Linked DNA regions of Homo sapiens: region 2 is linked to region 1. Evidence: fine-mapped expression QTL. A gene starts in region 1. The other region holds a variant in brackets. All regions are shown on one strand. Distances are from middle to middle. Region 1 holds the start of RASSF1-AS1 (RASSF1 antisense RNA 1). Region 2 overlaps DOCK3 (dedicator of cytokinesis 3).

Region 1 (2,908 bases):
CCTCACCCTCCCAAGTAGCTGGGATTACAGGTGTGCACCTCCGTGGCTAGCCCTCCTTTTCAATTGGTTAGTGTCTTGTGGTTTTCCCACCTTTCCACAGTGGAAAATGGCTCAGGACTGACTGACATGAAGACAAGCCCAGGGGTCTACACTCAACTCAACCCTTGCACCCAAGCTCTGGGCTAAGATTTTGGCGTGCTGAGCACCACCCATTTTGTAAGGAATTTTGTAAAATTTTATCTGAAGCATCACTCACAACTCCACTTTCTTTACTTAAATAAGGATTTCCGCCCCATTTCTGCCAGGCATACTGAGCTTCACAGTCCCTGTTTCTTTTTCCTGGTGCCTAGGCCTGGTTCTCTGAGCCTGGTGGTCACACCAATGGCATCTGGCACACAGTTCTCCGATAATGGGGATACCTAGGAGGTTCCGAGACACCTTACAGTCCTGGGTTAGTAACCTGGATCTCTTTTTCCACCTCTTTAGGCATTTTATAATCTAGCTTTCCCCCTTCCTGTGGGTAAAGTGCTCCTGAATGCTTATGGTCCAAAACAAGACTTCTTTCCTATCTATTCCCAAATCTTTCTCCAGATCCACCCTAGAGGAAGGGAACAGAATCTTCCACATTCCAGCAGCTGGTGACAGGCCAGAACAGGGAAGAGGTGAGGGCTCAGCTGGCTCCATACAGGAGTGCAGATGGAGGAGCAGGATCTCTCTCTGCCTCTCAAGTTTTCCTAAACATACTTCTCAATTCCTGGCGAGGACTCTTCCCTCTCCACATCCTCCCCTAGTCTCCCCAAGGAGGGAGCAGGAGCATTCGAACGCGGAAATCGAGGTGCTAGTCCAAACTGCTCGGTCGGCTTTAGTCATAGCTGGATAATGCCCGGCTCAGGTCTACCACAAGCCATACAGCTGCTTTTTCCGTGTTCAACCTGTCTGTGACAGAAACCAAGGGGGCCCCGGCACCCAGCATCTAGGCGGTGGAATCGGGGTCTTACGCACGGTTCCGCGGGCAGGTCCCCGGCCAGGACCCGCGGGGAGCCACGTAGCCAGGAGGGTGGGGCTGCCCACCGACCCAGGACGCGGCAACGGACCGGGGAGGGCGGAGCTCCAGCGACCGCTTCCCCTCCCGCCCGCCGGCACCCCCTGGCTCCCACCTGGTCCCGGCGCGGCCTGCGAGCTAGCGAGGTTCGCGCGGTGAAGTACTGCTCGAGCTCCGAGTCCGAGTCCTCTTGGCTGCAGTAGCCACTGCTCGTCGTGCTGCTCCAGGTCATTTCGAAAGAAGGCGCCTCCGCCTCGCCCATAGCCGTACCCGCCCGTCCCCCAGTCCTGCGCGTCCGTAGCCGCCAACCACCGCCCCGGTCGCGTGCGTGCGTGTACGCGTGTCAGTGTGCGCGTGCGCCCGGGCCAGAGCCGCGCCGCAACCGTTAAGACTGAAACGTAGATCGCCGGGATCTAGCTCTTGTCTCATTGGGGCAGGAACGCCGGGGCGGGGACACGCACGCTTCGCCCCCAGGAATGACCTCATCGCTCCGGAGCTCCACTCACAGACCCCACCTACCACAGGGAACGGGGGCGGGTGCCAGCGTCCGGGCAAGCGCACAAGAGTGGCCTCTGGCCGGAGGCGAGGGCGGGAAGGTGCGGGAAGTGCGCGTGCGCGGAGCCTGGGTCAGCCTGGGCCCGGGTCCGCTTGCAGCGGGTGGAGTACTTGCGGAGCCGGCAATCCAGGCTCCCCTCCCAGCCCCCGCGCAGAATTAGCCTCTCTGTGCCGCCGGGAAATCGGCAATTAGAACGCTCCTTGCGCGCGGCACCCAGGCAGCCCTCGAGAATGCCTGCACTGTGGCCTGCCCATCCTCGCCCTTCCCATACGCCCTCGGCCCCGCGCTCACCACGTTCGTGTCCCGCTCCACCGCGGGTTCCCAGCCCAGGTCCCGGGGCCCGCAACAGTCCAGGCAGACGAGCGCGCGGCAGCGGTAGTGGCAGGTGAACTTGCAATCTGCAGAGAGGCCTGGCGGTGAGGCGGAGGAGCTCCAGGTCGGGGAAATGTCCCGGAGATTGAAGGGAAGCCCCAGGGAGAGGGCCGCTGCTCGCCAGGCTCCGCAGGCCCGACCTATCTCAGTGGGTTACCTCACACTGCTACGCGGACTCTAATGTTGGCCACCTGGGCGTCTGGAAACCGGCCGGAAGGCCACAGGCAGAGAGGCCTGCTCAACAGTTGGATCTCTATCGCCTAGCACAGAACTTCCCCTTTCCTCATTGGCAATTAAAAAAACAACAACAAAAAACTGCGTCTTGCTTTTGTCACCCAGGCTGGAGTGCAATGGCGCGATTTCGGCTCACCGCAACCTCCGCCTCCTGGGTTCAAGCGATTCTTCTGCCTCAGCCTCCTGAGTACCTAGGATTACAGGCGCCCGCCACCATGCCCAGCTAATTTTTGTATTTTTAGTAGAGACGGGGTTTCACCATGTTAGCCAGGCTGGTCTCAAACTCCTGATCTCAGGTGATCCACCCGCCTCGGCCTTCCAAAGTGCTGGGACTACAGGCTTGAGCCACCGCACCCGGCCCTTCACTGGGAACGTATATGGAATACATCTGCCCATTTACTTGAAGGAAAAACTAAACACCTTTAACCTACGTCTGCCCTGTGGTTGTCACCTGTCTCTACTCCCCTCAGACCAAGACACTGGTCTCTATACACTCTAATCCTTCGCCTTCACTCTCCCCTCTACCCACTCCAGCCAGGCTTGCCTCTTCCTCCAGGAAACTGCCCGGGACAGGGTCCTCAGCGATCTGTGTACTACCAAATGGAATCCAGTGTTCCATTCTCCATTCTCACCCCCTCAGCATCATTTGAAGCTTGCTCCCTTTGACTCCCAGGGGCTACACTCTCCCAGTTTTCCTCCTACCC
Region 2 (2,908 bases), 550 kb after region 1:
AAGAGAAAGAAATAAAGGGTGTTCAATTAGGAAAAGAGGAAGTCAAATTGTCCCTGTTTGCAGATGACATGATTGTATATTTAGAAATCTCAGCCCAAAATCTCCTTAAGCTGATAAGCAACTTCAGCAAAGTCTCAGGATACAAAATCAATGTGCAAAAATCACAAGCATTCCTGTACACCAGTAACAGACAGAGAGCCAAATCATGAGTGAACTCCCATTCACAATTGCTTCAAAGAGAGTAAAATACCTAGGAATCCAACTTACAAGGGATGTGAAGGACCTCTTCAAGGATAACTACAAACCACTGCTCAACGAAATAAAAGAGGACACAAACAAATGGAAGAACATTCCATGCTCATGGGTAGGAAGAATCAATATCGTGAAAATGGCCATACTGCCCAAGGTAATTTATAGATTCAATGCTGTCCCCATCATGTGACCAATGCCTTTCTTCACAGAATTGGAAAAAACTACTTTAAAGTTTATATGGAACCAAAAAGGAGCCCGCATTGCCCAGACAATCCTCAGCCAAAAGAACAAAGCTGGAGGCATCATGCTACCTTATTTCAGACTATACTACAAGTCTACAGTAACCAACACAGCATGGTACTGGGACCAAAACAGAGATATAGACCAATGGAATAGAATAGAGCCCTCGGAAATAATACCACACGTCTACAACCATCTGCTCTTTGACAAACCTGACAAAGACAAGCAATGGGGAAAGAATTCCCTATTTAATAAATGGTGCTCGGAAAACTGGCTAGCCATACATAGAAAGCTGAAACTGGATCCCTTCCTTACACCTTTTACAAGAATTAATTCAAGATGGATTGAAGACTTAAACCTTAGACCTAAAACCATAAGAACCCTAGAAGAAAACCTAGGCAATACCATTCAGGATATAGGCATGGGCAAGGACTTCATGATTAAAACAACAAAATCAGTGGCAACAAAAGCCAAAATAGACAAATGGGATCTAATTAAACTAAAGAGCTTCTGCACAGCAAAAGAAACTACCATCAGAGTGAACAAGCAACTTACAGAATGGGAGAACAGTTTTACAATCTACCCATCTGACAAAGGGCTAATATCCAGAATCTACAAAGAACTTAAACAAATTTACAAGAAAAAATCAAACAACCCCATCAAAAAGTGGGCAAAGGCTATGAACAGACACTTCTCAAAAGAAGACATTT[A/C]TGCAGCCAACAGACACGTGAAAAAATGCTCATCATCACTGGCCATCAGAGAAATGCAAATCAAAACCACAATGAGATCCCATCACACACCAGTTAGAATGGCGATCATTAAAAAGTCAGGAAACAACAGGTATTGGAGAAGTTGTGGAGAAATAGGAGCACTTTTACACTGTTGGTGGGACTGTAAACTAGTTCAACCATTGTGGAAGACAGTGTGGAGATTCCTCAGGGGTCTAGAACTAGAAGTAACATTTGACCCAGCCATCCCATTACTGGACATATACCCAAAGGATTATAAATCATGCTGCTATAAAGACACATGCACACATATGTTTATTGCAGCACTATTCACAATAGCAAAAACTTGTAACCAACCCAAATGTCCATCAATGATAGACTGGATTAAGAAAATGTGGCACATATACACCATGGAATACTATGCAGCCATGAAAAAGGATGAGTTCATGTCCTTTGGAGGGAGATGGATGAAGCTGGAAACCATCACTCTGAGCAAACTATTGCAAGGACAGAAAACCAAACACTGCATGTTCTCACTCATAGGTGGGAATTGAACCATGAGAACACTTGGACACAGGGTGGGGAACATCACACACCAGGGCCTGTCGTGGGGTGGGGGAATGGGGGAGGGATAGCATTGGGAGATATACCTAATACAAATGATGAGTTAACAGGTGCAGCACACCAACATGGCACATGTATACATATGTAACAAACCTGCACGTTGTGCACATGTACCCTAGAACTTGAAGTATTAAAAAAAAAAGGCCATTTTGCTAGATATCTGTGAATGGCAAATAATCACGCACAAGGAGAAGTTTTTTCTTTATAAAAAAAAATGTTTGCTTCAACCATCAAACCTAATTAAGAAAATTCAAGAGAAAAATGAATGTCTATTATATTTACCCATGGGTTTGCTTACATTTTTTGTTTTTTCTTAGTGTAGTTCCATGGTTTTTTGTTTTATCATTTTCTTTCTGCTTAGAGAATTTTCATTCACTACTTTTTTTTAGGGTATTTCTGTTGATGACAAATTCTTTTTGTTTTCCTTCATCTGAAAATGTTTTGATTTGTCTTCCATTCCTGAAATGTATTTTTGGTAGATATAATATTCTAGATTGACAGTGCTTTTCTTTCAGCATTTGACAAATGTGCCACTTCCTTCTGTCTTCTATATTTTCATTGAAAATTATAGAAATTTGTATTTTAAATATTTTATACTTATTTTTCAAAAATCTAGAATGTAAAATACACATAACGTTTACCATGAGTGACATTTAGTACATGCATAATGTTTTACAAACATCACCATTATTATGTTTCAAAATGTTTTCATTTCCACAAACAGAAACTTCCAAGCCCATTAAGTGGCCATACTTTTTCATCCTCCTGCTGCTGACAACCATATGACTTCTTTCTGTCTCTGTGTATTTGCCTATTCTGAATATTTCATGTAAATGAAATTATATAATAGGTGTCTTTTGCATCTGCCTTCTTTCATTCAGCATAATGTTTTCTGAGTTCATTCATGTACGTTCCTTTTTATGGCTGAATAAGATTTCACTGCAAGTATATACCATTCTTTTTTTTTTTTTTTAATTTTTGATATGGAGTCTCGCTCTTTCAGGCTGGAGTGCAGTGGCGCCATCTCGCCTCACTGCAAACTCTGCCTCCTGGGTTCAAGCGAT

What was found. PIP is the estimated chance that this variant, and not a neighbour inherited with it, causes the effect.
Region 2: its variant is fine-mapped to the expression of RASSF1-AS1 in T cells (TOPMed, PIP 0.92).

Annotation. Positions count from the first base shown.
Region 1 is chr3:50,336,016-50,338,923 of GRCh38, forward strand. RASSF1-AS1 (RASSF1 antisense RNA 1) reads left to right here and starts at 1,496. Exons shown (of 1, transcript NR_109831.1): 1 at 1,496-2,285. RASSF1 (Ras association domain family member 1) reads right to left here. Exons shown (of 6, transcript NM_007182.5): 2 at 1,890-1,996. RefSeq lists silencers at 900-1,209, 1,280-1,459 and enhancers at 1,531-2,102, 1,930-2,189, 2,270-2,359.
Region 2 is chr3:50,881,289-50,884,196 of GRCh38, forward strand. The region is part of intron 3 of DOCK3 (dedicator of cytokinesis 3); the gene reads left to right. Among named protein-coding and RNA genes, the nearest start is that of MIR4787, 210 kb to the left of the region's middle. The variant A/C (reference allele first, on the strand shown) is at 1,203.